Linked DNA regions of Homo sapiens. The protein of the gene in region 3 purifies or fractionates together with the protein of the main gene of each other region. This does not show direct contact. Each region holds a gene or a part of one and is shown on either strand. Other genes may lie near its edges. The genes, in order: ALDH5A1, COL18A1, AHI1, BOP1, OFD1, LAD1 and RRP1.

The links.
Region 1: the proteins of AHI1 (region 3) and ALDH5A1 purify together in Homo sapiens (affinity purification with mass spectrometry; one large-scale study listed by BioGRID and IntAct). This does not show direct contact.
Region 2: the proteins of AHI1 (region 3) and COL18A1 purify together in Homo sapiens (co-immunoprecipitation; one study listed by IntAct). This does not show direct contact.
Region 4: the proteins of AHI1 (region 3) and BOP1 purify together in Homo sapiens (affinity purification with mass spectrometry, with the first as the bait; one large-scale study listed by BioGRID). This does not show direct contact.
Region 5: the proteins of AHI1 (region 3) and OFD1 purify together in Homo sapiens (affinity purification with western blotting; one large-scale study listed by BioGRID and IntAct). This does not show direct contact.
Region 6: the proteins of AHI1 (region 3) and LAD1 purify together in Homo sapiens (affinity purification with mass spectrometry; one large-scale study listed by BioGRID and IntAct). This does not show direct contact.
Region 7: the proteins of AHI1 (region 3) and RRP1 purify together in Homo sapiens (affinity purification with mass spectrometry, with the first as the bait; one large-scale study listed by BioGRID). This does not show direct contact.

Annotation. Positions count from the first base shown.
Region 1 is NC_000006.12:24,534,747-24,538,025, forward strand, and holds the end of ALDH5A1 (succinate-semialdehyde dehydrogenase, mitochondrial isoform 2 precursor), read left to right. Parts: 3' UTR 1-2,461; downstream 2,462-3,279. UniProt on the Homo sapiens protein: Catalyzes one step in the degradation of the inhibitory neurotransmitter gamma-aminobutyric acid (GABA).
Region 2 is NC_000021.9:45,411,160-45,415,568, reverse strand, and holds part of COL18A1 (collagen alpha-1(XVIII) chain isoform 4 preproprotein), read right to left. Parts: intron 1-4,409. UniProt on the Homo sapiens protein: Probably plays a major role in determining the retinal structure as well as in the closure of the neural tube.
Region 3 is NC_000006.12:135,487,386-135,491,794, forward strand, and holds part of AHI1 (jouberin), read right to left. Parts: intron 3,363-4,409; coding exon 3,238-3,362; intron 1-3,237. UniProt on the Homo sapiens protein: Involved in vesicle trafficking and required for ciliogenesis, formation of primary non-motile cilium, and recruitment of RAB8A to the basal body of primary cilium.
Region 4 is NC_000008.11:144,280,796-144,285,204, forward strand, and holds part of BOP1 (ribosome biogenesis protein BOP1), read right to left. Parts: intron 1-4,409. UniProt on the Homo sapiens protein: Component of the PeBoW complex, which is required for maturation of 28S and 5.8S ribosomal RNAs and formation of the 60S ribosome.
Region 5 is NC_000023.11:13,740,973-13,745,381, reverse strand, and holds part of OFD1 (centriole and centriolar satellite protein OFD1), read right to left. Parts: intron 968-4,409; coding exon 863-967; intron 1-862. UniProt on the Homo sapiens protein: Component of the centrioles controlling mother and daughter centrioles length. Recruits to the centriole IFT88 and centriole distal appendage-specific proteins including CEP164. Involved in the biogenesis of the cilium, a centriole-associated function.
Region 6 is NC_000001.11:201,395,877-201,400,743, reverse strand, and holds the start of LAD1 (ladinin-1), read left to right. Parts: upstream 1-1,419; 5' UTR 1,420-1,437; coding exon 1,438-1,475; intron 1,476-4,867. UniProt on the Homo sapiens protein: Anchoring filament protein which is a component of the basement membrane zone.
Region 7 is NC_000021.9:43,795,652-43,800,060, reverse strand, and holds part of RRP1 (ribosomal RNA processing protein 1 homolog A), read right to left. Parts: intron 2,640-4,409; coding exon 2,510-2,639; intron 2,431-2,509; coding exon 2,366-2,430; intron 2,155-2,365; coding exon 1,961-2,154; intron 492-1,960; coding exon 412-491; intron 1-411. UniProt on the Homo sapiens protein: Plays a critical role in the generation of 28S rRNA.

The DNA.
Region 1 (3,279 bases), about 110 Mb from region 3:
GCCCACCGACCTGAGCCTGAGTAAGTGGCTGTCACCTGAGCCTGTTCTTTCTGTCCTGGTGTGGTGCTGCTCCCTCACCTCCAAAAGAGCAAAAGTACTTTCACCACAGTCAACCCAAAAGGGAAAGAATTTCTGTAATTGCCAACCCACTTTGTAGAAGAGGCATGAGCCCTTGAATTTCAGGCACCTTTTATCTAATGAGAGTTTTTACAGCTCATCATTCAAATAACGCACAAAAAACAAAAGCCGCTATGACCGGCGTTGCCTCTCACTTTGAAAGAAAGACTCCGTAATCTTAAACAGATGCAAATCCAATTAGGCGGCCAAGTAGGTGGAGACGAAGCACCTTCCTTTCCCCATCTCTGTCTGTGTAGACTCCACTTACATCTTGTGGTTATTCTGGGTTGTGGAAGGAAAATGTGAATGAAAGTAGTGCTGGATGCAATTACTCCTGAACCCCACCTAGGATTTAACATCCCTCATTGAGCCACTGGGAAGCTATGGTTGAGTAACTAAAGGTCTGGCAAGACCCTGGGCACACAGGGAGCTGCCTAGCATCTGGCCTGGAGTGTACTAGCCACATTCCCAAGGTCCCAAGGAGAAGGAAGAGCTGAAATTCATCTCCTAGTGACAGTGCCCCGGCCCTGTCAAGAATCACATACTCAGCATTTTGACAGTTAATGTCTTCTCTTTATTTGTGTAGTTTTTAGGTGGTTTTATATAACATTTTAATTACTTGTGATTTAGATGTATCCATCCTTTTTCTATTAAGAATACAAATGCTGGGCTGGGCACAGTGGCTCACGCCTGTAATCCCAACACCTTGGGAGGCCAAGGCAGGCAGATCACGACATCAGGAGATCGAGACCATCCTGGCTAACACGGTGAAACCCCGTCTCTACTAAAAATACAAAAAAAATTAGTCGGATGTGGTGGCAGGTGCCTGTAGTCCCAGCTACTCTGGAGGCTGAGGCAGGAGAATGGCGTGAACCCAGGAGGCGGAGCTTGCAGTGAGCAGAGATCACGCCACTGCACTCCAGCCTGGATGACAGAGCGAGACTCCGCCTCAAAAAAAGAATACAAATGCTCCAACATTATTTTTTATAACTCTGGATTACCGATGCTGAGATGTGTGCAGGAATACTTCCAAATAAATTTTTAACATTGTAAGCCAGTAGATTCTTTGGCTGGGTGGCAAATTTTGAGTCTTCTTGCATATTTGGCTCATGGGTTCATAAATTGAGGCCAGAGACTCATTGTATATCCTTGATCAATTTTCTAATTAAAGGAAATAGCTTATTGTTTAGTAAAATGGCCCTTGGTTGTGGGAAGAAAGAGAATTATTTTTAACTGAACGTTTTTGTTGTTTTTTAAATAAAGTAGCCATATGTAACGGGATTTTAAAAATATATACATTTTACAACATGGACTAGAAAAGGACCATTAGATCAGGGGTTGGCAAACTATGGCCCACGAATCAAACCTGGCCTGCCACCTGTTTTTATACAACCTGTGAGCTAAGAATGGTTTATATGTTTTCAAATGATTGGGCAGAAAATCAAAAGAAGAACAATATTTCATGACACCTGAAAATTCTATGAAATTCAGATTTCAGTGTCCATAAACAAAATGTTATTAGAGCATAGCCACACCCATTCATTTATGGTATTGTCTGGGACTGCTTTCTTGGCAGAGTTGAATAGTTGGGACAGGGACAGTATAGCCTGCAAAGCCTAAAAGATTTACTACTTGTCTCCTTAAAGAAAAAGTTTGCCAGCTCCTGATCTAGACCAAGAGGGAGATATTGACCTTACTTGCATTTATCCGGCATTATTTCAACACCTCCTGTGAAGAAAGTACTTTTCTGGCATAGCTACCGTGAGTTCTCAGCAGGAACTTCCCAGCGATGATAATGTACATGAAATTAGCCACGTAACAAGAGTCTATTTGCCTTGAAAAAACAATTATCCTTGAACTTCCTCCAGCTATGCAGGGATTCTCATTAAAGAGCTGATCTGCATCTGTTTATCCATTTTAGTAGCTTTTAAATATGATTTTATGTGAAGTGCCATTTCTTTATTCTACTAAAGAGAGACAGCAGAAATAAAGATCAGAAGCAAATGTGAGCAAATCTGTTTTACTGTTAACTTCAATTATGAACTTGAAATTGTGCCACATGACTTTTTCCTCTAAAAACTGGATCCTAGTGTTTTAATTACCTGTGTGCAGCTATTTTAAATAGCATTTTACTTGAATAATATGTATGTTGTCATTGTTTCATGCTATACTTTGTGGGATAAAACTTGGGAATGAGTGTGGTAAGAAATTTATAAAGTTTTGCTTTTAAAACGTGGACATAACTCATTTTTCTAGTTTTTGACAATTGTGTGTTTTAGTGTCTAGTCTGCAGAGAGCTGTGTGATTAATAAACGTGGAATTAACAGAATTTCCTCTCCCTGTATTAAGGTGTCTGGTTGTGCTTTTTTCCCCCTACTTGGTGATCTTTTGAGTTTTTATTGGATGATATTAGACCAGTTTGCATTTGTGTAAATAGCACTCCCTCCCCCAGAGAGCCGTAATCAGTGAGTGCCTTGGGGAAGGAGCCAGCATGTGAAATGATGTGCCCTAAAACCCAGAGAAGGGCCTGTCCATGGTGTGCGCTTATAGAATGTTTGCTAAGCTGAACTGAGAATTTACCTGGTTTGCAGAGGTGGCGGTCACAGAAAGGTGTATAGGCCAGCCGTCACAGATTGGCCTATCTCTCTCTCCTACACGCCCCACTGTTATGACTTCCTGGGCTCAAACAAGCCTCTCACCTCTGCCTCCTGAGTAGCTGGGACCACAGGCACCTGCTACCACACTCAGTTAATTTTTCTTTCATTTTTTGAACAGTCAGGGTCTCACTGTGTTGCCCAGACTGGTCTCAAACTCCTGGGTTCAAGCCACCCTCCCGCCTCAGCCTCCCAAAGTGCTGGGATTATGGGAGTGCACCATTGTAGCCAGCCCTCACCATAATTTAGAACACAGACAGCACTGCTGCCCAGTGGTTAGTGGACATTTTTGCAAATGTCGTCTCACATTTTACAATCACGTATTGCTCGACAACAGAGATATATTCTGAGAAATGCGTCATTAGGCAGTTTCGTCCTTGTACGAACACTGTAGAGTACTTACACAAACCTGGATGGTACAGCCTCCTACACAGCTAGGCTATACGGTCTAGCCTATTGCTCCTAGGGCTACAAACCTGCACAGCATGCTACTGTACTAAATACTGTA
Region 2 (4,409 bases), on a different chromosome or scaffold from region 3:
TCCCACCTGCATCCATCTTCCGGAAGGGGGGCTCCATTCACAGCCCCGCTCCGCCGCCCCTGCGCATGGTCCTGCCCCTCCTCCTGCCCCACCCGTGGCAGCCGGTCCTGAGCTCTGAGCCCTGGGTGTCCAGCTCCTGGCTGCTGCCCTGGGCCTGTTGGGAGGTCATCCTGGGGACCTGAAGACCAGAGGTTCCATTGAGTCAGGAGATTCCGAAGGCCGAGGACTCATCTTTAAGTCTCCACAAAGCCTGCAGCCTGGGGTGGCCCTGGGTGTGCAGGAAGTGCTCGTATTCTGACCCCCAGCAGCCTTGAGGGTCCTGCTGAAGCCGGCACACATCCAAGACTTCCTGCCCCACAGAGTGGCCCTTCGCAGGTGAGAGGCCCTTATTCCCATGGTCACTAATGCCACCCCTTCGGTGAACCAACACCACGCCGCACTGTCACCTCTGGCTGCTGGGACAAGTCAGTCAGTGTCTTAAAGCAACACAGGCATCCCTCAGAGCTCAGGAGACTGGAAGTCAGAAGTCACGGTGCCCGCAGGGGTCCTCTGGAGGCTCCAGGGGGAACCCACTTCCTGGTCTTCTCATGCCCTCCCCAGCGGCTCCATCTCCATCATCCCCTCCTCTCCCTGTCCTGCCCCTTCTCTATAAGGACCCTCGTAATGACGTGGGGCCCACCTGATAATCCAGGGTCATCTGCACCTGATCCTGAGCCTCATCCCACACACAGGCCATACTCACGGGTCCCACAGGCCGGGGTGGTCAGCTCGGGGTCAGTATTCGGCCTTCTATGCGTGTGATCGGAAGTGGAAGCATAAATGAGGGTTTTGGGTTTTGTTTCTTAGGTTCGGGGACATTAGTGTCCATCTGTCTGCCCTCTCACTGGCGGGCAGGGCTGTTTTCTGGTCTGGGAGGCTGGCTGTCCGTGAGGCCCTCAGGCCACATGCCCGGAGCATGGCCATCAGCAGGGGCCAGGCCTGGGGCAGAGTCGGCCGCAGGGTCCGAGCCTTGTCTGCAGGAGGCCGCCCAGGTCTGTTAAAATGCCAGACGTCCCCTGTGATGACAGGAAAGGCTGAATTGGGACAGGTGGTCTTCCTGGTTTCCAAACCTCCCACAACATTCTCAGTCATTTTCACAATAGAAACGTGTGACTAACAACCTGAGTAGGTCGGACTGGAGCCCATTCCTTTGGGGGTGAAGTCTCATTTCAGCTGGAAAACAGGGATGTCCTGCTGCCCCGAGGGGATCAGAGACCCCGCATCAAGATGTGCCCCCGAAAGGGAGACAGGGCTGAGATTTGGGGACCCAAAACAGATGAGAGGTCAGCAGCAACACTGCCTGCCAGGCACAGGCACACCATGGCCTCCTAGCAAGAGGCAGGGCAGCAGCAAAGCCAGGAGAAGGGAGCTGATTGACGGCCAGAGCCACAAGGCTGGGCAGGAGGGCCTGGGGCCAGGCGGTGCATCCAATACAGAAAGGGCCTCCCCCTCCTCCTCCCGATCCTCCTCCTCCACCTCCTCCTGCTCCTCCAAGGGACCAAGGCTCAGAGAGCAGAGATGGTTCAGGTGCACACGGGCTTGGAGAGGGCAAGCTGTTTAGCTGAAATGAGAATTTATACTAGAAGACGCCTCCCAGCTCCATGGACCAGCTCACTCCATAAGGCTCCTGCCCCTGAGGGTCCGCCACCTCCCTCAGCACCCCTCCAATCCCACACCTAGGGAATTTCCTGGGAACCTGCCTTTTAAACCCTCTCCATCCTCTACCCTGCCTCTAGCCTCTGCAAAGGCCCAGGCACAAGTGCTGGGCATGGCTGGCGGGGCCTTTGCTTCCCTCAGTGCCCAGGGACAAGGATGTGCAGGGCTGGCAGAGGGACCCCAAGGTTAGCGTGGACGGGATCCATGGACGCTTCCTTCTTTCTGGCTGGAAGGCTGAGATGATAACAGAAAGGAAGCGGATGTTCTCTGAACTCCTCCTCAGAGGCAGCACATGAGGCTAAACTTTACAAAGCACAGACGCCTCCCTCCGGGAACTGCCTCTTCACAAGAAAGCTCCTCGCTGGGGCAAAAGAGGCCCGGCTTTCTCAGAAGTCTCCTGACAGCCGAGGGGTCGTAGCGGGAGACTTTAGAAAATGTTTGCCGCCCAGTCACAAATCCAGCAAGTGGAGGAGACAGGTGTTCCCTGGGTCCCCGCGACAGGGGCGTTGAAGCCTGTCATGGTGCAGGCGCCCTGGCCTGCGGACACGTAGCGCGGCTGGAGGAGGTGGGAATGGCTGCCCTCTCTAATACACATCTTTCAGTTCAGCAGGCACAGCGCGGGGCTCAGTAAGAAGCAGCACAAAAGCTGTGTCTGCTCACGGGGACCCATTTTACTCACGTTGCAAACCAGTCCCTCCTACGGGGCTCTGCCCTAAGGGTGGGGATGGAGCCCTCTCTCCACTGTGGCGTCCCCCCTAGAGCCTCAGGACCGGCTGGCCTCAGAGGGCTGTCAGCAGGACACACCCCAGGAAGCCGATGTGTGATGTCCCATCCTTCCTGTATGGCCCCATGACGCTCCACCATCCCCAGGCACAGATTAGAGACCAAGACACGGAGAGGGTGAGCAGCCTGCCCGTGGCCACACACACTCAGGGTCACAGCCTGAGCTCTCAGCCATCACACTAGGCGGCATCCCACCCATGAGGGCAAAGAGGACCATAGATGACGGCCAGGCTTCCTGACAGTTTAGCCACTACTGTGAGAAGCATCTCTAATTCCATATCCACAAAGGCAGAGTCAAGACGCTAACAGCTGACAGGTGCCACGTGGCCTCCCCACAGGCACTGAGGCCTCAAGCACCTTCACTTGCAGGACCCTCACGGCCCCTCAGCAGACCTGCACCACAGATGAGCAAAGTGGCAGGGCCAGCTCCATTGTCTGTGTGCCTGGGCCGCAGGCCCCTGAGCTCTGCTGGCCACTCCAGGGTGCCATCTCTAAAGGGACCAGAAAAATGAGGAAAAACAACTCCACACATTAAGAAATATACCCCATGGCTGGGCACAGTGGCACACGCCTGGAATCCCAGCACTTTGGGAGGCCGAGGCAGGTGGACCACCTGAGGTCAGGAGTTTGAGACCAGCCTGGCCAACATGGCAAAACCCCGTCTCTACTTTAAAAAAAAAAAAAAAATTAGCCAGGCGTGGTGGCCCACACCTGTAGTCCCAGCTACTCAGGAGGCTGAGGCAGGAGAATCGCTTGAGCCCGGAAGATGGAGGTTGCAGGGCGCCAAGATCACGCCACTGCACTCCAGCCTGGGCAACAGAGCCAGACTCCATCTCGAAAAAAAAAAAAAAAAGAAATATACCCCCAGTTAAAGAAATATCATACCCCCAGTTAAAGGCTGACCATAAACAATAAAAGTACGCAAAATAGGACATCCAGAGCTGAAAGCATCAACAGACAAAAAGCTACGGGGAAAGAGAATGCACCTGCAGGGCAGTGGGCACGAGCCACAAACCCGGCATTCCCAGAGAAGCACGACGGCCCCTTAGTGCGTGAAAAAGTTCACCCACACGGTGAACGCCACGTTCCCAGAGAAACACGACGGCCCCTTAGTGGATGAAAATGTTTGCCCGCATGGCAATGGGGACTCACAAAACAGAACTCTGAGATGATATTTTCCATCAACCAAATTAGCAAGGTTTTTAAAAGACAGGATCCAGCCTGGCCGTTTGGGCCGCAGAGCTGTGTGTAAATGAACGTCGCCCATCAGAAGCGAGGCCCTCCCCTCTCCTGCAGGTCCCTGACCACAGCCTGCCCCCCCCCCACCCCCCGCCATCAGCCCTGACTCTGGCTGGGGTGACACCCAAGATAAGAGCTGTGAGAAGACGAAGCCCTCGCCTGTGTCAGCGATAAGGGTGCACTGTTCCCTATGACTGCTCACTCACAGCGCCGGGCCCTCCAGAGCCTGTGTCAGCGATAAGGGCACGCTGTTCCCTGTGACTGCTCGTTCACAGCGCCGGGCCCTCCAGACTGTGGGCGTCTGAGGCTTACTCCGGGCCCTTCAGACTGTGGGTGTCCGAGGCTCATTGTGGTGTTTCCTTCTCTTCTCGGGCAGGCACGGCCTCTCGCACACAGAAGGTGCTCAAAAATGCACACAGGAAAAAGGAATCAAAGGCCGGGTGGACCAAGAACAGTGGCTGGGCTATCCCCAAGCAGCTGGCGGGGGCCTCGCCACCCATCAGCCCACAGCCCTGGGCTCTGAGGTTCTCCACTAATGCCAGCCCCCAATCCTGCTGGCCTCTTTAGCCCCAGCATGGAAGAGGTCACAGACACTGGCTCCATGGGGTCACCTGGCATCGGGGAAGGCAGAGCCACTGCAGACGATGTCCTGCCCCTGGATAACACCCTGCACTGGCAGCTGCAGGGCTGGG
Region 3 (4,409 bases):
TTCTGTTCTCTCACATTATCATATACATATATCTAATGTAAAATCTTCAGGAATTATTCTGGACATATATAATAATTAAGAAAGTTCTACATATTTAACTGATTTCAAAGTTCATCCAATGGTATTTTTGGATCATAAATTTCCCATCAAAAAAATTTTTAACTGATACATAATAGTTGTACATATTTTGGGGGTACATGTGATATTCTGACACCATATACAGTGTATAATAATCAAATCAGAGCATCTGAGATACCCATTACTCCAAGCATTTATCTTTTATGTTGGGAACATAAATCTTCTCTTCTGGCTATTTTGAAATATACAATAAATTATTAACTGTAATTTCCCTACTGTAATACTGACTACTAGAACTTATTCCTTCTAACTATATTTTTGTACTCCTTAACCAACTTCTCTTCATCCCTTCCTCTAAGATCTTAAGATGTTCTATTCTTAAATTCTTAACTTTGATTCATATCTAGAAATGGTACTACATCTTTAATAAATCTTAAATCTTTTTTTTTTTCCAGGGAGGGAACACTGATATTTCTCTAATAATGCACATATGTTTACAACTACCATCACAAATGACTGACAACTTAGGTGACCAGATTCCTCAGGCTACAATTTTTCTCTTAGTGCTCTAAATATTTCTCCATTGTCTTTTGGATTTAGTGTTTTTACAGAGAAGTCTCAAATGTACTATATGTTTTTGTGTTTAGGTGTCTGCAATATTTGACTCTTAAGATACAAACAAAAGAATTTTCTAGATATAGTTCTCATCTCATAAATTTTGCCTGGAATGCAGGATGACTCATCTCTTCAGAAATCTCAGCAAGGTTTCTTCATCATGCTCATTATTGTTTCTGCTCCACTAGTACTGTCCCGGGATACTTATTTGTGGGTCAAATATCTTTCTATGTCCTCATCATTTATTTCTTTCATTTTAGTTTTGGTCATTTCTTCCCACCTCGAATTTGTCTCCCACTTCACTGATTAGATTTTTCCGTAGTGTCAATTCCATCATTTTAGGCCTGAGATATAGTTTTAAGGAAGCAACTGAAGAACATGAACTTTAAAATTGCAGAGACTGTGGTCTTAAATCCCACTTATCCTATTTTAGACTAAATGACCTAAGGAAATCACCTAACATGTCTGTTTGTCTGTTTATAAAATTTCTCATGTGCAAAAAAAGAATCCCAATATCTATCTTGCATGATTAACATGAGATTTAGAAATAATATTTGTAAAACTCTTATTATTGTGCCTTATATATAACTGGAATATAAGATGAACCTGCCATTATTATGAATCCCTATTTTGACTTTTTTCCTCGCTTAATTTTATTTCAGACTGCTCCATTTCTCATCTCAGCCTGTTCTGTACATAGGACTCCCTGTTCTTCTTTCAAGAAGAAGTCCTATCTTTTCAAATTTCATTAAAATAGATAATATTGGGTTGTGGTTAAGGCAGTGGATTCTGCACTTCCACTCAGTGTTTGAATCCTGGTTCTACCATTTACTATGTAACTTTCAGCAAGTTACTTAACTTCTGATGTAGTTTTCTCCTGTACAGAAATAAAACCCTGTAATTTCGTCGTTTGTATTAAACGACTAAATATATATAAAGTGTTTAGAAGAGTGCCTAAAGATAGAAAGCATTAAGGCATCTAGCAAATGAAAGCAGCTATTCCTCTTTTACTTCCTCAAGTTAATCATGTCAAAAATATTTTGTTCTCCTCTAAGTCCTTTAGAAATATTCCTGTTCTTTTGAGCTGCGAAATATCTTCCCAAATATTTGTTCCTAGTGTACTTATTTCTGAAAGAAAAGAAGCCTATTCAGTCCTGGTGTTTGCAAAGAGAGGCTGGATAAATTATGCTTAGTCACCTCACACTTATGTGCCCCTCAACATTTAAACTGGACCTTAGGTAAATGGACATAGCCTCTGCCTATTCTGATTATCCATTTAATTTAAACCTTGGTCTAAATTGCATTTTGTTCATGGCTCACAACTCCCAGTTCTTTAATACTAAGAGACAATATGAGGTTCTTCTCTGAGCATAAAACATCTCTGCAGACAACTGTTTCCAGGGTTCTTTTTGCTTTTGCCCAACATAAACCACTCCATCTGAGGGGAGCGCATATATCAATAAGCAATGTTTCATCCTCCATGTCACTATTCCCTACCATATTGTGCACTAGTACCACCAGAAAAAGCACATGCTATTTCAGAGCAGCAATCACTATGGGAGTGCTAATCTGTCCATTCTGTCAGTAGTTCGAAATTTTTGTGCAGTCGTACACCAGTGTATACACTATGAACCCTCACATATGTGCAGCTGGATTTTGGTCAATTTTACTACTTGTTTTTGCCTCACTTCAGAATTTATATTGTTACATTGACATCTGCCAGACAGAATACTAAAATGAACAGGTCTTAAGAAAAAATGGGGTAAATCTTACTACAAGCAAAATGTAGGATTATAACTCATTATAAAACTCCTGCCAAAAAAAAAAAAAAAACTATGTACCATTTACACAAGAGCCTGTTTATTTTTTTCTGTGAGGACAGAAGAGATAATGGTCAAAGTAGTAAAAAGTGCAACTCAAGTAGGGAGATAGGTATAAAGAGGGCATAGAGCATTAACTGTGGATGCCAATACAGACTCTTTATGATTCCAAGGGGATCAGGTTGTAGTTAGTTGCTGATTTGCTTAGTCTTTGAGCACTGTATTTTTAATTCCTTCAAGTGTGCTGCCAAAGATTCTATCATTTGAAAGTGTGCCTCAAACATAAAAGGATAATTATTACCATACGGCCATTGATTTCTCCTGGTTCTGTTGGGTAGAATCACACAGAAATAGTTTAAATAAGCACAAGCTATTCAATATCTGAAGTTAAGATACTACTTCCTAAGTTCTTCACAATTCTGGGTTAAAAATATTTTCTTCAAAAATGTTATCATGGCTAGTTTTGAGTTTCCCCACTATCTCTGGTCATTTTCCCCACTGTGTGTGTGTTCTTCCTGTAGGACAGCACTCAAGAATGAAGTCAATATTCTCACAGTGATGTTGATTCTAATATAAACTTTATTTTTACCACATGTTATTGACCATGACATAGTGTTACTGTTTTTAATTTTCAAAATTCCTTAGAATTTTAACATAAAATGCAGCCATATCTGCATTTTATGCGCATATGTAAATCACTATTACCCAATGATCATTTACTTACTGAGATGTTTTCTTCAGACCTGACAAGTTTTTTCTTCAGTTTTTTCTTTTCACGCATTAGATCACTGTGGGTCTTAAGCAATTCTTCAAAGCGAACTTTGGTTTTTACTTTTGCTTCACTCTCAGCTACAAAAGATACAGCCATGTGATTTTGTAAATGACTCTATCATAACACACAACCTACACTACTAGGATGTTAAGAAATAAGTTCTTGTAAATATCGGCATGAGTTCTCTAGCTACATTAGAAAAACTCACCTATCTTTCCTTCTTAAAATATTTTTTATTTTGACTTTAGTGACACAACATTCACCTGTATCCCTCTGACCTTTTTGGCCACTCACTCTAAAAGTCTCCTTTGCTAAGTTAACTTTTTATTTCTGATAAACAGTAGCATCTACCACTGTTAGTTACGTGTTATGTGGCTTTAGACAAGTTACTCAAGATCTCTAAACTTCATTTTCCTTATCTGTAAAATCACAATTATCTTATGCCAAAGATCATTTTGCATGAAAAATGGCTAAGGTGTGCCTAGCCTGTAATCAGTATTCCACAAATATTAACAGGTTTTTCCTTTAAAACATGAAGAAGATAATGCTTAAGCCCCTGAAAATTTCCCAATACATTTAGGATAAAATAAGTCTTTTATATGCCCTACAGGGCTCCATACCTCCTGATCTATCTCCAGGGCTTCAAATCAAGACAAATATCCCCTTAGATGCCTATGTTCTAGCTATAATACCCTTCCTTTAGCTCCTCCGTCACAGCAAGCTCCTTCCCACATGAAGCTGTTTCTGAGGCAAGCTTCCTCTAATTCCTCACCTGGCTGGTGTTAACCTGTCTGTTTAAATGCTGCCTGTAAATAAAACACCTCCTGACAAACTCATCTAATTTTCCCTTTTCTCACATAGCAGGTTGTTCTCTTCCTTCACAGCACTCAACCCAAATGGAAATTATATAATTATTTTTATATCTATATAAAGAAACATATTTTCTGTTTCCCCCATAACTACATCCCCAGCTACTATTATGAGGTCTGACATAGTGTACATAGTCATTATGTTTTAAATTAATAAATGCTGAATGAATGGGTGCTCTAGAGCAAGTGTCGGCAAACTATGGCCTGCAGGCTAGTCACTTGTTTTTGTAAAGATTTATTGAAATCAGACATACC
Region 4 (4,409 bases), on a different chromosome or scaffold from region 3:
GAGCTGAGATCAGGCTATTGCACTCCAGCCCGGGTGACAGACAGACTCTTGTCTCAGAAAAAAAAAAAAATCTGGAATCATCACTTTAATACCAGGTCTTCGGCCTTCTCTCACTTTCATACCAGGTCTTAGGCCTTCTCTCAGTTTAATACCAGGTCTTTGGCCTTCTCTCACTTTAATACCAGGTCTTCGGCCTTCTCTCACTTTCATACCAGGTCTTCGGCCTTCTCTCACTTTAATACCAGGTCTTAGGCCTTCTCTCACTTTCATACCAGGTCTTCGGCCTTCTCTCACTTTAATACCAGGTCTTCGGCCTTCTCTCAGTTTAATACCAGGTCTTAGGCCTTCTCTCAGTTTAATACCAGGTCTTCGGCCTTCCCTCACTTTCATACCAGGTCTTTGGCCTTCTCTCAGTTTAATACCAGGTCTTCGGCCTTCCCTCAGTTTAATACCAGGTCTTCGGCCTTCCCTCAGTTTAATACCAGGTCTTCGGCCTTCCCTCACTTTCATACCAGGTCTTTGGCCTTCTCTCAGTTTAATACCAGGTCTTCGGCCTTCCCTCAGTTTAATACCAGGTCTTCGGCCTTCCCTCAGTTTAATACCAGGTCTTCGGCCTTCTCTCACTTTCATACCAGGTCTTTGGCCTTCTCTCAGTTTAATACCAGGTCTTCGGCCTTCTCTCACTTTCATACCAGGTCTTTGGCCTTCCCTCAGTTTAATACCAGGTCTTCGGCCTTCCCTCAGTTTAATACCAGGTCTTCGGCCTTCCCTCACTTTCATACCAGGTCTTTGGCCTTCTCTCACTTTAATACCAGGTCTTAGGCCTTCTCTTACTTTAATACTAGGTCTTAGGCCTTCTCTTACTAGTGCTTTTTTCTTTCAAGACAGAGTCCCACTCACTCTGTCACCCAGGATGGAGGCAGTGGCATGATCTCAGCTTACTCTAACTTCCGCCTCCCAGGCTCAAGCAATTCACATGAGGTTTCACCATGTTGGCCGGGCTGGTCTCGAACTCCTCAAGTGATCCGCCCACCTTGGCCTCCCAAAGTGCTGGGATTACAGGTTTGGCTCACCGCATCCAGTCTTTTCTCACATTCTTGACTGTGACAAGCAGATTAACTGATAAAAACAGAAACTTCTGCACAAAATAATAAAAAGAAAAACTCACATAAATGAAAAGACAAAACCAAGCAAAGCTGGGAAAAAAATGAATCTAAATGAGCACAGAAAGGAAAAAACAGCTCTGAGCGCACGGACCCCACAGATCCACTAGACACCAGCGATAAAGAGAAGGCCCTGCAACCAGTCCTCGCTCCGGTGAGCCCGCGGCCCGCGCTGCCGTGTGCTGCTGGAGAGGGGACAGGAAGCGAGGCACAGGCCGGCAGGAGGCAGCTTCCTCCCTGGCTGGTCAGTGGAGGGCTGGGAGCACCCGTGTCAGGGGTGCTGCAGGGCAGGGAGCACACAGCCCAGGGCGCCCCTCCAGTGGGATGGCTCGCAGACACAGTCAACAGCTGGAAGGGCAGGGGCTGCAGAAAGTCCCAGGGAGTAGGAACCAGGCCAGGAGACAGAACTCGTGGGTCATCAGGTGGCACAGAACGCAATTAAGAGGCAGGACTGCCAGGCCCAAGGCAGGGAGGCTGGAGATGGGGTGGGCCCTGGGGTGAGGCTGGCCCACCAAGCTCGTGCCAGAGCAGGTGGACCCAGAAAGAGGGGTCACTGTAGCAGGGACGCAAAGGGTGGGGAAGGGATGCCTGCCCTCAAACCACACAAACACAAAAATAAATCAAACCCACTGGCCCCAAGGAGGCTACTAGCAACAGCTGTGGGCCCTGCCGTGGCCCACAGATACCCCAGGGAAGGAAGGGGGAGGTACAGCACCCACCCCATCTTCTTGGGCCCTGTCCCTGTCCTCATCCCTATCCTCTGACCACCCCCCAGACACAGAGTACCCTTCTTCACCTTCACTCCTGAGCTCCTCATGCCAACAGTCAGGGGAGGAGCTGCAAAGGGCACAGCCAGACCCTGCTCCTTGAGTGCACCTCACAAAACACCAGGACTCCTGACCCCAGAAACACAGACAGCAAATGCTCGTTGTTGAAAGGCACTATGGTGGCCAGGTGCGGTGGCTCACGCCTGTAATCCCAGCACTTTGGGAGGCCAAGGCAGGTGGATTACCTGAGGTCAGGAGTTCAAGACCAGCCTGGCCAACATGGTGACACTCCCTCTCTACTAAAAATACAAAAAAAAAAAAAATTACCCGAGCGTGGTGGCTGGCATCTGTAATCCCAGCTACTCAGGAGGTTGAGGCACGAGAATCGCTTGAACCCAGGAGGCAGAAGTTGCAGTGAGCCGAGATTGTGCCACTGCACTCCAGCCTGGGCGATAAGAGCAAAAAAACTCCATCTCAAAAAAAAAAAAAAAAAAAAAAAAGAAAGGCTCCATGGTTTGGGGCAGTTTGTTGTGGTGCCAGATAACAAAACAAACAAACAGAGAGAAAACAGCAAAGGGCTCCTGGCCCAGGGAGCTCAGACCAAAATGACAAGAACCAGCTAGCTGTCCTGCCCTTGGGCAACAGCCATGAGGGTTTCCAGCCAGCTAAGTGCATGGATGATGCCGCCACAGGGAAGAGACAGAAGGGCTTCCGGGACTGGGACCACGGGCACGCACCGCCATGCCTGGCTCATTTTTTAAATTTTCTGTAAAAATGGGGTCTCATTATATGGCACAGGCTGGTCTTGAACTCCTGGGCTCAAGAGATCCACCTGCCTTGGCCTCCCAAAGTGCTGGGATTACAGGTGTGAGCCACTGGGCCCAGCCTGTGACTCATTCTTTTTATTTTTATTTTTTCAGTTAAGCCCAGCTGTGCGAGCCTCATTCTTAATGAAAGAAAAACATCACTAAACAAGAGGAAAAGATGAAGCAGCAACACCATGAGGGAGGCTGGTGGTGGGAAAGCAGCTGAGGGGCGGCTGCAGTAGTGCATGGCATCACCGCCTAGCGGAGGGACGCTCCAAGCACCTTCACAATTAAATGCATTGATGGCCAGGTGCGGCGGCTCACGCCTGTCATCCCAGCACTTCAGGAGGCCAAGACAGGTGGATTACCTGAGGTCAGGAGTTCGAGACCAGCTCAGCCAACATGGTGAAACCCGTCTCTCCTAAAAATACAGACATTAGCCGGGCGTGATGACGGGCGCCTGTAATCCCGGCTACTCAGGAGGCTGAGGCGGGAGAATCACTTGAACCCAGGAGGTGGAGGTTGCAGTGAGCCGAGATTGCACCACCGTACTCCAGCCTGGGCGACAGAGCGAGACTCTGTCTCAAAAAACAAAACAAAACAAAACAAAACAAAACTAGCCAGGCATGGTGGCGGGGACCCTGTAGTCCCAGCTACCAGGGAGGCTGAGGTAGGAGGATCCCTTGAGCCCAGGAAGTTGAGATTTTGGTGAGCCAACATCGCACCACTGCCCTCCAGCCTGAGTGACAGAGTGAGACCCTGTCTCAAACAAAAAAAAGCATTTATCCTTTGACCTAGAAATTCTCTTGGAATTTTCCCCAAGAATGGTGTGCACATGTGAGAAACAGCATGTTACTGTCAGGTCAACTGTAAGAGCAAAAGCCTGCAACTGCCCACCCACTGGAGCTGTTGAGGCCGAGCTGCCAGGCACTCTACGGGCACCAAGCACTGTACAAACCAGAGCCATGGCCTCCCTGACAGAACCATCCTGAGACAGCGCACGGCTGCCCCTTCTCTTAAGAAACCACCATTCAAAAACTCTGTGCGAGTTTGGATATGTCTAGAACATCCTGGAAAGAGACTTCAGCACTGGAAACAGTAGTTGCCTGGATGCAGCAACAGGAGCCAGGAGGGAAGGGTAGGAGACTCGTTCCCTGGCACACCCCTCAGGAGCACCTGAGCATCCAAAGGTGCCCTAGAACACCACGTGCAGCTGCTCACTGAATGCCACGTAATTCTACACAGTCCTTAGAAAGGAGGCAGGGTCGTGTGCATGTCAATGCTAAAGGCCTGAGGGCAGAAAGCCAGAGGGAAGCCTGTGGCCCGGCCCTGCAGCCAGAAGCACGCCCACCCTGGGTCCACCCAGGCAGGTCCGGAGCCCTTGGCAGGTCGCCAGGTCTCCACAGGGGCCGCCAGCAGCTGACCCCCAGCAGTCACCGGGCTCCCCGCTACAAGGGCCTCCCACTGTGGGGCTCTCCGCAGGACGCCCCGGGCCGGTCTGGGTTGGTTTGGGGCACACACTTGGAATCAGATTTATGGAGGAGGCTCTCTGAAGGTGACCCATCAGCCACATCGCTGCCAGGATGGCAGAGATGAACAAAAGCCGCAGCTCCCTCCCATGCCAGTCACACAGCCCCTTCTTCACAGCACCATCGGGGCCGGGTATACCCACC
Region 5 (4,409 bases), on a different chromosome or scaffold from region 3:
CTGAAATAATATTTTGCATGTATTGGGTTAAATATATTATTAAAACAAATTTCACCCGTTTCTTTTTACTTTTTTCAACGTGGCTACTAGAAAATTTAAAATTATGTATGTGGCTCACACCACTGAACAGCACTGCTTGATAATTAGCAAGTAATATGTTTCTAATTGAATTAAAAATACACTTAAAGGCATAGTCATATAATACATTTTATGAATTATGAACTTATCTTCTTGCAAGTTACCATTTAAGAGTAAGGAAGGGCCAAGAAATCCATTAAGCATATCGTTTTAAACAGCTATTTCCCATCTCTACTGAGCACGAAACTGACAGACAGGATGGTACTGCAGACCAGCTGGATAGTACAAAAAGCTCCAGATCATGGATGGGAGAACTTGGACTCCACTATTAGTTCTGATGCAGACTGAGTGTTTCCAAGTTGCTCTTCCTCTGAGGACCTCGGTTTCCTCAACTATAAAATGAAGTGATAAGTCACTGACTTCTCTAGTACTTTGCAAAGCAAGTAGTTTATAATCTTCTAACTGGGTGGCTGTAAAGTTAGACAAGACACGAGGAAGAACCTCCCAGTTAAGAGAAGTCAAACTCAACAAACAAGGAAGAATATGGGCCTTTGAATCCCTGCATGATTTGGCCAGTGTAGCCCTGGCATTCATGAGGCTAGGGAATGACACTGGAGAGCACTTCCTGGTCCCCCAAGATGATTCCAGAAATGAATTCCCTTGTTGCCTGCCGGCTGCATCCCTCCAGTTCAAGGAGCAATCACACAATATGGTAAATCAGATAATTTCCTTCATTCAAAATGAAAACAGCAGAACTGAAATTAAGAAAGAAGGCTATAATTACCCAGAGAATCTCTGTTAAATGTCGAACTTGTCTGAGTTTCCATATTACAACTCTCTTTAGCTTGATGATATTCTGCCAATTCTTTTAAAAAATGCATAAGAAAACCTAAAAAACATATGCATACAGTTTTGTTTCAGAACTTTCAACCACTGCTCAGTCACTGTTTTTACAATCTTAGTTTTAGGACATTATCATTTTTTACATTATATATCTTTCCTTTTTTTTAGAGACAAAAGTCTTGCTCTGTCACCCAGGCTGGAGTGCAGTGGTGTAATCATGGCTCACTGCGGCCTCGACCTCCTGGGCTCAAGCAATCCTCCTACATCAGTCTCCCAAGTAGCTGGGACTAGAGGTGCACACCACCACCCACCACGCCCAGCTAATTTTACTTTTTGTATAAACAGGGTCTTGCTATGTTGCCCAGGCTAGTCTCAAACTCATGGCCTCAAGCAATCCTCCTGCCTGGGCCTCCCAAAGTGCTGGGATCACAAGCATGAGCCACTGTGCCCAGTCATATCTTTTAATAAATCTGAGAAAAGGCCTTCCCAAGCATGATACAGAACCTGGAAGGAATAAGGAGAAATATTTATCAATCTAACTACATAAAAACTGAAAACTTACATATGGCATAAAATAAAAAAATAACACACTGGGAAAAATAGTTGCAATAATATGGAGGCATAACCAAGACTAAAGTGATGACATTTTCATAACATCAAAGAACTCTTACAAATCAGTTTAAAAAAAAAAAATCAGAAAAATGGGGAAAAACATGGGTAGTTTGCAGAAAAAACTACATTGTCAAAGATGAACACAATTTTTAGATGCTGAATAAACATGAACAAAATCATAAATGCAAATTAATACAACAGAGAAACCATTATTTTCCCTATAACACTGCTAAGATTAAAACTTGTATAATGCTAAGTGTTGGCAAGGGAGTGGATATATAGCTATACTCATTCACTTGGAAGAGAAATTTGTCAGTGCTTATATATATTCGAAATGCATGTGCCCTTTAATCTAGTCATTCCACTTCTATGAATTTACACAGGTATACTTTCACAAGGGCACAAAGGGTGCACACTGCACATAGGTTACCTGTAATGGCAAAAAGCAAACAATAAAACAACCAGATCTCCATCAATAGGGGGTTAAATACATTATTTAAAAATAATTAGTCTATACTGCTACAGAAAGATACATTGGTGGATTAAAAAAAGCAAATTGCATACAGTATCTACGATATAATCCCAATTGATTGTGTTTTAATTACAAATACATAGTTTTAACCTCAAACAATTCTAGAAGATAAACAAGAAACTGTTAATTCTAGTTATCAGTGGAGTGAAACTGTTAATTCTAGTTATCAGTGGAGCGTGAGATTAGAGAACATGGGCAGAAACTGCTACTTTGCTTTCACTTTATATCCTTCTGAATAGTTTGAAACTGTTTTAAACCACAAGCATAAATTACTTAAGAAATGTTTAGTTTCTTGGAACTAAAAACAGTAGTTAGCTCAGCACCTTTTCCCCCACCCCCACTCCCTTCAGGAAGGGGATTAGATTTTGTCACAGTCTGCATACCATCCTGGGATCACCTGACCTAAATTTGCAAACATTAAGGTTCACTCTTGATGACGTAAAGCTCTATGGGTTTCGACACTGGGTCTTTCATTCTCTTAACAGCGTCTTTTGGCAGGGTACAGTGGCTCACGCTTGTCATCCCAGCACTCTGGGAGGCTGAGGCAGGCGATCACCTGAGGTCAGGGGATCGAGACCAGCCTGATCAACATGGTGAACCCCATCTCTATTGAAAACACAAAAAAATTAGCCAGGCGTGGTGGCAGGCGCCTGTAGTTCCAGCTACTCAGGAGGCTGAGACAGGAGAATCACTTGAACCCAGGAGGCAGAGGCTGCAGTGAGCCGAGGTCACGCCACTGCACTCCAGCCTGGGTGGCAGAGTGAAACTCCGTCTCAAAAACAAAACAAAAAGAACAGTGTCTTTCACAGAGATGTTTTTAATTTTAATAAAGTCTAACTGATCTACTTTTTTCTTTCATGTATCTTGCTCTTGGTGTTACATCTCATCACGAAACCCAAGATCACAGACTTTCTACTGTTCTCATCTGGAAGTTTTATAGTTTTGCATTTTACATTTAGGTCTATGGTTCATTTTGAGTTAGTTTTTGTGTAAGGTATAATAAATAAGATCTGTGTCTAGGTTCATTTTTGCGCATATGAATATCCAACTGTTACAGCACCACTTGTTGAAAAGACTATCTTTCCTCTATTGAATTGCCTTTGCACCTTTGTTAAAAAAAAAATCAATTGACTATATTTGTGTGGATGTATTTCTGGACTTCCTAATTCTGTCCCCATTGATGTATATGTCTTATTCTTTTGCCAATTGCAGATAAGAATTTTTACTTCCAAAAAGCAAAGGGCCGATGTCCAAATTTTCTTCCCTCATCCAAATTTTGTGCACATCATTTTCTGGATATTGTCAGGCCTCTGAGCCGAAGCTCAGCCATTGTAACCCCCGTAACCTGCATATATACGTCCAGATGGCCTGCAGGAGCCAGCTAAAAAACCACAGAAGTGAAACAGCTCCTGCCTTAACTGACTGACCAACCTTACGACATTCCACCATTATGACTTGTTCTGCCCTGCCCCAACTGATCAATCGACCTTGTGACATTCTTCTTCTGGACAATGAGTCCCAAGATCTCTCCACCATGCACCTTGGGACCCCCTCCCCTGCTAACAATAAATAACCACCTTTAACTGTAACTTTCCACTGCCTACTCAAGCCCTATAAAGCTGCCCCTCTCCTATCTCCCTTCACTGACTCTCTTTTCGGACTCAACCCACTTGCACCCAAGTGAATAAACAGCCTTGTTCCTCACACAAAGCCTGTTTGGTGGTCTCTTCACACAGACACGCATAACAGATATCATTATCTCTGAAAGGAAAATTAGCAGTGGGAAGAATGGGTGACTAGAATCTAGGAGGAAAAGTACCAAGGCCATTCAACAGCTTAGCACCCCCTGAGCATAGATATGGTAGGATAAGACCATAGGTCTGAGTCAGGGGACAGACAACGGTTAAGTACACAATATCTTCCTACATGTTTTCTGTTACTTAATTAGAAGACACCAATTTTTAAAAAAATTTTATCTTACCAGGAGCTATTTTGTTAGCTAAGAGTTCTATCCAAATTTTGGCACTAGGATGCCTGACCTATCTGCTACTCATAGTTTTTCTGGCTTCCAGAAATTTTACTGGGATGCTAGGTGAAGCTGGTAAGGGCTGTCGGCCAGATGTCTTTCTGAACCAGATGCATTTAAAGAGACTGTGTAAAAACTATTTTTTTTTTTTTGAGACGGAGTCTTGCTCTGTCGCTAGGCTGGAGCGCAGTGGCGTGATCTTGGCTCACTGTAACCTCTGCCTCCTGGGTTCAAGCGATTCCCCTGCCTCAGCCTCCCAAATAGCTGGGACTACAGGTGCACGCCACCAGGCCTGGCTAACTTTTTTTTGTATTTTAG
Region 6 (4,867 bases), on a different chromosome or scaffold from region 3:
AAACTGAAGGAGTTTGTCCCAAGTCACACAGTTCACAAATGTCAGAATCAGAGCTCAAGTGTGCAAGTTACCAGTCCAGTTCTCATGTCCTGGACCTCGTCCCACCCTTGCCAAGAAGGAAGGCTCCCTGGAGGAGGGGGTACTTCGGGAGGGGGAATCTCAACAGGCTGGCTGTGTCTGTGTTTCCAGGCTTCTGCCCGGCAGCTAGCTTGCCCTTTGCCGTGAGATCTCAGAGCTGGAAGGCCTGACATGAGCACCAAAGAGAGGCTGAGGCTGGGCAGCGAGGCCCAGGAGCATGAGGGCAGTTCTGGCTCTGGCTCAGGCTCCCTTTTGATATTCTCATCCTGGCGCTGGGGCTGTGCCTCCTTCCTCTCAGGGCAGGAACAGCAACTGTGCGCTGACCCTGCAGTTCAGATCCATCAGGGAAGATAAGATTCCCCATGCTCAACGCCTGACCCTCTCTTAGCCCAAGCCCACCTGAGGCTGGTTCCTGGATAGAAAGCACCTGGCCCCGCACCAGCCCAGATGGGCACCTAAAGGGAGCCAGGTGGTGTCAGGGGTGCCTGAGCTGTCTCACGGTGCTCCAAAATTCGAGTCCTAGATATCTGTGTTTAATCTTTCCTTGGGGAAGAAAAACTGAGCTTCCTCTGCCCTTATTATACACCCTGCCACTCTAGCCCAAAGTCCAGTATCAGGGAGCAAGGACAGTGCCTTTGACATATTTGTGCTTTCACAAATGTTTGCTGAATTGAGTCTAAGATTCTCCCTTTGGGTGGGGCTGGGTCTACCAGGGGCATGTTTTGTGTGCAGCTCAGAAAGCAATGCCTCATTCATCTCAGCGAGGCCTACTGGGACGGTGGGCCCGGGTGGGTTCCGAAGCCAGGGAGTGGGGAGGGCGCTCCCTGCGAAGGGGCCCCGAAGGCGCGGGCGCTCTAGACCCGAGATCACAGTACCTGCGCTAACTTTTCCGCTCGGCTTCTTGCTCTTGAGCGTCTCCGGGCTAAGTCGGGTTCCCGGCAGGGGTCCCCGCCCCCAGCCCAGCTCCTCGGCACCCCGGGCCGCGGCACAGCGCGGGGAGGCGTCCCAGCGCCAAGCTGGTCGGACTGGTTCTGAGCAGGAAGTCTCCCGCCCTCGCCCCGGGCAGCCGACCAGCCCCACGCCGGCCCCGGGCGTCCGTCGTTCGGTCCCGCGATCCGTCCGACGGTCCACCCAGTGCTTGCGGCCTCGCGGCCGGGCCGGCCTGGGCTGCAATCAATGCGGCTTTGTCTGGGACGCCCACATCCCAGAGGCCATTCCCGGGTCGGCAAATCGGAGCGCGGCCGGGGCGCGCGGGGGTGAGATAAGCGGCCATGTGATCCCACCTGGGCTGGAAGGGGAGGGGCGCCAGGTGAGGCGGCGGCCGGCGGGGCGCGGGCGGCCACGCGGGGCTCCTGCAGCATGGCTGTCAGCAGGAAGGACTGGTCCGCGCTGTCCAGGTGAGCGCCGGAGGGAGCCGGGAGGGGCGGGGGGTCGGCGGGGAGCCTTTGGGTCTCCTCTCCTCGGGGCACCGGCCTCCTCCCCGCCTGGGACCCTGACACTGAGGCTGGATCCTGGTCTTGCTGCGACTCGCGGGAGACAGGATTGGGGCCAAACTCGGGACCCCTGAGGTTACAGGGTGGGTCTTCTCCCCTCGGGGCCTGAGGCCCCACACAGGGTGCTTAGGGGAAGGCTGGTCCTCAGTCTGGACGCCCGCTGGGATATGGCCCCCCCTGTGGAAGGTGGAAGCAGGAAGGAACGTTTTGGGGGATTGTGGAGGTGTTCAGGAGTAACCTCCAAGCCTCATTCCTGAGAGAAGCCTCTCTCACTGCCCCCGTGTGTCTCTGGCGGAGAGGACCCCTGGGAGGTGTCCCACAGCCCCTCTTGGGAGGGGGAGCAGGGAGAGCCGTCTTGGAGGGGTCAGTGAAGAGGACTGGAGGGAAGCAGACCCGTCTCCCACTAAGGACGCTCAGAATCTCAGCATGGCATTTTGGGGTGGCATCTGGGCTGGGAACCTTAAGATAGTTGCCATCCCCATCTGTGCTGCTGCAATCTTTACTTGTACACTGGTCTCCTAAAGGGTCGGGGATGAGGCATCCTACCCCTGCCTGCTGGACATCCCATCAGGGTCCGAGAGGCCTGGGGAAGGCGGGTGTTCAGAAGGCAGCACCCCTCATGGAGATTGGTGACCTCTAGCGACTTCTCTTGGAGCGACCCTGCACCTCTGCCAAGAAGGCCCCCTGTGAGCATTTTCACCTCATTCCTCCACTGGGCGCCCCCGTCCCCCATCTTGTCCCTAAGGAAACTGAGGCTCCTGCGGTAGCCCAGAGCTGGAGCCTGCTCTTTTGATCCCTTTCTAGCCAGGTAGATATTAGCCTCTTAGCTCCTCCCAGGTGGGCATTTGGGTCTTGGCCTTTCCTGAGCCAGGGCTATCTCTGCCAGGTGCAGACCCTCCAGCCATTTGGGTCCTGTAGGCTTTCCCCAGCAAGGCATCTTTCACAGGTTTTTCCAGTGCTCTAGTATGTCCTCTACCCCGCTCCTGCCCTCCCTTAATAAGGGCTCCAGAACTACCTCATTGTCTCAGGCTTAGCCTCTCCATAGCAGCTCATCGCCTGGGACTGGGGGGCCACCTCCCCAGACCCTCAAGACCTCACAGTGCTCTGAAGCACTGTGGGCAGCCCATGGGCTCTAGAGAGGGGAAAAGGTAAGCCCCACGAATGGAGGGAACTCAGTGCTCTGGAAAAGAAACCCAGGCTGCTATAGAGGAAGGTCTATGCTGAGGGTGCGGCTGAGGAGTCAAGGTCTTGGACTTTGCATGTGGGTCAGTGTGCCTGGGGGTTGATGTGGGAGTGTCTTTGCTTCTAGATGTGGGCCTACCTGTGCCTATGAATGTATGCTTATGTGTGTGTGTGTGTGTGGCATACTTGTGGACAAGTGTGTTTATGGCCTATGAAGAGATGACACATCTGTGTGGGGAGCTGGTTCTTATGTTGCTGAGTCTTGAGTTTGTCAGTCTGCATATGTTCAGTTGAACTGTTTATTGAAGACCTCAGTACTGTGCATTGGGTTAAAAATACAAACCAGACACTCCTTCTTCAGAAGTTCATAGTCTGGTGGGATATATGTGATTTTGTGTCTGAAAGCATGCCTGGATATGCATGGGGGGGTGTGTGTGTGTGGGGAGGCAGCTGGGGCACTGGAACTTTGAAAATGGGAGCAAGGTCTGGCCTAAGCTTGTCCACTGCTCAGATGGACATGGACTCATGTGGCTACAGCCAAGTTCCCACAAGATGTCCAGGGTAAGTGCCAGGAAGCTCTGGGGAACAGTCCTGCCACAGGGGCCCCTGGCCTGCCCTCCCTGCCGGGTCCCAGCCCTCATAGAGCCCTGTGGGCAGACGCAGCTGCTGCCAACAGTCACCCTGATGAGGCACCTGGAACAGAGGACCGCTCCCGCTCCGCTCCCTGGGTGAACAAGCCTCAGCGGGCAGGCAGGAAAGGGCTGTGAGTCACTGTCAACAGAGCCTCCTGGGCTGGGGAGGACCGTGCTAGGGTGTGACAGCACGGTCCCAGGTGGGGAGGTGGATGGAGAGGTGGGTGGGTAGCTGGGGGCCAGCCTGCAGCCCATCCTTGGCATGGAGCAGAGATTCAAGTCTTCCAACCCTGGGATTGGGGGGGCAGTGGTGAGCTGGCTGGCTGGGTGCCCTGGTCAGAGGCCTTGTCCTTTTCTCCCCGGACTGGCCTGGTGACCAGTGAGGCTGGGCCAGGCCTGTCTGCAGGGGGTGAGGGGTGGATCTGAGAGTGCCTGGGACTGAACAGCCAGTGGTTAATCATTTCCCTGCCTGGGCCTTGAGCCGCCCTCCTACTTCCAATCGCTGCCCTGGGTTCTCCAGACACCTCTCCCTAGACCTTTGGGGCTGGAAGAGACCTGAGTTACCCCCCACAGTGACCATGCAGAAGGGGAACTTAAGGCCTGCCCTGCTCAGGTGCAGGAGACTGGCCAAGGTCATGGGCATGATCCCCCAACCCTCCTCTGTCCTCCCTTCCCTAACCCCAGTCCCCAAGATTTGCAAATTATGCTCCTTGAGCCCCAGGGTTCCACAAAATGCATCTGGGGCAGCCTTCTCACCCTCTCCCAGCTTTAAGCAGGGCAGCTGAGCCTTAATCTGTTGTATAATGGGCTTCTGTCTATGATTCAATTTGGGAAAATGGCTTGTACTGCTAAATATGACTTTTAACAACCACTTCACTTAAATCCCTGCCATCAGTTGCTGCAGAATAGATGGAAGTTAGACTTCAGGAAGAAAGTTCCCAGGGTAGAGGTCAAAACAAGCTCTCTAGTGAGTAACGGCAGAATGTCCTTTAGAATTATTTAAGAGAAAAAGAGGATCCCCATCCCCAAAGGATGGAGTTGAAGTCTGGAGTGGGGAGGAGGATAGCAGCATTACATGGAGACACCGAGAGGGACATGTGTCCCCAGATGAAGGCCAGGAGGTGGGGGAAAGGGTTGTCTAGAGGGAAGGAGTGGTAGGCAGCTGCCTGGGGCTGTGGCCTCAGCTAGTAGGAGCAGCTGAGCCTCCGCAGCTGTTCGGGCCTGTAGGTTTCACCCTGGGCCTGGCTCTGGGGCTTGAAGGTCAATGTTGCATGGGCCACGGGGTTTCCCCAAACCTCTGCCCTCCCAGGCTCCCAGGCTTTGCCCTGGGCCCCAGCCTGTCCTGGGGTAGGGAATACCACACCTTCAGATGCCCTCTTGGGCCTCTGTTCCCTCCCTTGAAGGTTCAGCTGTTGAGCTCCCTCTGGGTTAGGGCCAGCCCTCCCTGGCCATACCTTTTCTGGCACTTGGTATGATGGTTAA
Region 7 (4,409 bases), on a different chromosome or scaffold from region 3:
GAGTGGATTCCTCGCTGGGACCCACAGGCCAGCCGCTTGGCACATGCCATCTCATTCCCCACCAGCACCCCAACGAGGGGGCCGCAGGAAATCTGGGGGGCTGCCCATGTGTGAGGCAAGAGGACAGCGTGAGGTGAGGCCAGCCCTGGATAATGCAGTTCTGCCTGAGCCCACCCTCCCAGGCCCCAGCCCCACTTTCCCAGGCCCCAGCCCCACTCTCAATGATCCCACTCGTCTACAGGCGGGCAGGGTTGGGGCACCCATCCCTCCTTCAAAGCTAACCCCTGTCCGGGTAACTCTCCATGCCAACAGCTGCCATCCTCCCTCCTAACGCCCCCCTCCTCTTCCAGAGCAAGCGGTAGCACAGAGGGGCAAAGGCTGAGGGCACAGCCATGAGCCCAGGGAACCCACCTGGAGAACGGGGCCGCCACTGTCCCTGTCGTCACCTGCCTGCTCCTCACCAGCCTCAGGTTCAGCCCTGCAGATGGAGCCTGGAACAAAAGGGACCCCGTGAACCCTACCTGTGCCCAACGTGTGCTGGCCCCAAACATCCAGGAATGGAGAGCCCGCTCCGTGCACCCTGGTCGGAGCACGGGCACAGGCGGGAAACACCCGGGAACGGACAGCCCACCCTGCACCCTGGTCAGAACATGGGCACAGGCGGGAAAGCCCACAGCTCAAGGCAGATACTAGGTGCCATGTGACCTCTAATCTCGTATGGACAGGATGAGAGGTGCCACCTCAGGCCTGCAAAGGAAAAAAAGATGTCCCAGGGCACAGGTGCCTACACAGCCCTGAGTGGCTGACTACAAGCTGGCATCTTGGGCAACAAAGGCCATGTCAAAAGTTCTGGAAGTGAGGAGCCTCAGGGTGGCCTGGTCCAGAAGCTGTGGGAGCTGATGTTTCGGCTGGGTGCTCGAGCTAGGCTGGGCATTTGGGGCTTTGATGGCACTGTCTGCAGAAGAAAGGTTTTTGGGCAACAGGCAGCTGTGGGGCAGCATGTGACAAGGGTCTGCTCTGTAGCTGGCAGCAGGGGGCCAGCAGCAGGCACTAGCGGACCTGCCAGGCACCTCAGCTACTGAGAGAGAAGGGCAAGGCAGAGACCAGGGAGAAGCATACAGGGTGGCCGGGCCAAGTGCTGGGGGCGGTGGGGAGGGGGTCTTCTGATTAGGAAGCCAAGGGGAACAGTGGCCACAGCACTGATTTGGGGCATACTGGGGTCCTGAGCGTGGTCAAAGACATGCCCTCCACAGCACCAGGATGCCACACTTAGAGCTCAGACCACCCAGCAGGCTCGGACAATGAGTGCAGCATCAAAACAAAAAATGGGCCAGGCTGGACCCCACGGCTGCCCACAGAGGCCTCTGGCAGGCAGTGAGGGGCAGGTGAGTACACCTGCCCCTCACACACACTGCACACAGAGCAGTCAGGTGCCCTGAGGTCTCAGGCCTGAACCCAGTCATGGTCAATATGGACAGAGCTTGCTGTCCTCTGGGGAGACGGGCCAGGAACGAGGAACACGAGGAGCAAGTGATTCACATCCCGTGCCACAGAGTGACGCTATGGGGAGGACTGCGTTGGGGGCTGGGAGAGGCCAGGAGGCTGAAAGAGTCCAGCCCCAGAGAGTGATGGGGGGAGAGACGGTGGGAGGGACGGAGAGACTCGGCACCAAGGCAGGAACGAGTCTAGGGGGCCAACTGAGCCAGAGGCATGCGTTAGACCGAGGAGCCCAGGGGTCCGGAGAGGGCGTGGAGCACATCAGAGGCTGGGGGATGAGGGGAAACGACGTGTGCTTGGTGCCCACAGAAGTCACTCTGGCTTCTATGCTGAGGATGGACTGTGGAGAGGGGCAGAGACAAGGGGACCAGGTAGGAGGTGGCAGGAGCAACCCAGCAGGAGATCGCACTGGCTCAGCCCAGGACAGGCCCCGAGGAGAAGCCAGGCGCAGTGTGACCCCCACCTGCGGGCGGCTTCTCAGACCTCTTCTGGGACAGCGCGTCTCCACGCTCACCACCCTCAGAGGACTCATCACTGTCCGACGCCACCTCCTCATCCTGTGTGTCCAGTTCATTCAGGAGGTCTTCAATGGCAAGCGGGGCCTGCTCCACAATCGTCTCAAAGATGCCTCGAGTGATGTTGTTCAAAACCAAGGAACTGAGGGGCAGAGCAGAGGCCGGTGAGCAGGCCCGTTATGCTGGATTCCCAAGCGGAAGCCGCCGACTCCCCTGCAACCTCTCCCCACCCACACGGCCAGCGGCCACTCTGAGACAGATTCATCCCTCGAGGGAGCAGCACCCCCACAACAGCAGCCCCATGGAAGAACTCAGTGAAGGAGTCGGGCCCGATCAGGCCACCCACCACTTACTCCTTGGTCCGGGCAGCAATTCTGCAGAAGGGGTCGATGAACTTCAGGTTCTGGTCTGCCGTAAGCTACGGGGAAAGCCAGCGGGAGCTCAGTTCCTCCTCCACAAACGCCCAGCTCCACCGCCCCGTCGGAGCCCAGCCTCACCTCCTCGGCGCCCACTTTGGTCAGCTCCTCCAGGAAGATCTCGATGAAGTGGCTCTTCACACCGTTGGGGGCCTGGCTGCTGGGGTGCAGGATCTCAGTCATCAGCAGCTCTAGCAGCTCCTCGATCTGTCTGAGGAAAGAAAAAGCAAACATGACAGGCAGCCTCGATGAGCCCCAAGACAGCCGTGCCCCCCACTCTCCCATGGTTACACGCTCTGATGGGAACCTAAGTGCGGGCAGGCGCCACTGTCTGCAAACATGCCAGCCTTAAAGTCCACGCAGATGATATCAACGATCCTAGGTCTCCTCCAGCGCAAGGCAGTCTTGCAGTTAGGGAGTTATGTGACCAGCACCACCACCAGAACGTATGGCCTGAGTGTGCATGTCAGCTACAAAATGCAGCACGTGTAAACATTCAGACAGGCCTTCCCTCTGTCCTCAAGATTGCTAGCAGAGAGAAAGGCTTGGCTGAGACGAGACGCCCTGCCTGGTGTTCCTCTCCACTGCCTCCACTGGGTACCGCTGGGGAAGACACGTCAGGACAGCACAGGCAGAGAAAGGAAGGTGGAGGCCCAGAAAGGGGCCGAGGACCATGAGCCACCTGCTGGCTTCCTGGGCCCTGCCGCACGACGCATTCCAACTGTGACGTCCACCAGAGCTCTCCCTGGCAGGCGGGTTTGATGGCATCACAGGCCCTGGATCTGAAGACTAGACAGCCCCAGAGAATAATGTGTAGCACCTACATGCATCTGGACCTCCTGGGGTGCTTAATAACGCAGCTGCCTAACTCAGATCTGTAAACTGTGTGATCCTTAGGAAGCTCCGTAGCAAGGCTGGAGAATCACTCGTGATGGAAAGGAAAAGTGATGCTCTCTAAGGCTCAGGAAAAACGAGACAGAGGCAAGAACAGGTGCTGAGACCAAGAGGAAGACACACAGATGCAAGGGACCGACTTCCCAGGCCAGTGGCAATGGCGTGGATATTAATGACAGCCTGGTTATGCCTGCAGGAGATCCAAGAGGGCGGGAAGAGCGGACCCCACTGTCAGCACTGGGACCGCAGCAGGCATTGGGGGAAGGCACCGAGGTCTTCCACATGATTCCTGTGCTGAATTCTCAGTTACAGGGAGAAAAGTACTCTTGTAATAATATGCCAAAAAAAGTTAACACAAGTAAAATCATCCCTTTAACATTTAATTCAGCTTAAGCCATGAGACCCCTATGGGGTAATCCACAATGCTAAGGCCCAGAATGAATGAGACTCCTGGCATCAGAGTCCTGCCAGGGAATAGAAGAATGAAAATCCCTCCAAACCAGAGGCACCGCTGCCCTAAATGCAAAATCACCCATGCAACTCAAACCTAGAGAAACTCAGCAGCCACAGTTCAATTCCTGCTGATTCTTTAAAAAAAAAAAACAAAAAACCAGAATCTCACTCTATCACCTAGGCTAGAGTGCAGTGGCTCAGTCACAGATCACTGCAGCCTCAAACTCCTGGGCTCAAGAGATCCCCTTAACCCACCATAACCAGCCTGCTAATTCTTTTCTATGCATTTATCTAATTTTTGTACTTTTAGTAGAGACACGGTTTCACCATGGTGGCCAGGATGGTCTCGATCTCTTGACCTTGTGATCTGCCCGCCTCGGCCTCCCAAAGTGCTGGGATTACAGATGTGAGCCACCGCGCCCAGCCAATTTACATATTTTTAGAATTAGGAGCAATTAACATTGCTTACAACTTGGGAGGCCTAGGCAGGCAGATTGTTTGAGCCCAAGAGTTTGAGACAAGCCTGGGCAACAGGACAGAACTCGTCTCTACCAAAAAAAGATACAAAAATTACGTGGGCCTGGTGGTGCACATCTGCAGTCCCAGCCAGTTGGGCGGCTGAGGCAGGAGGATC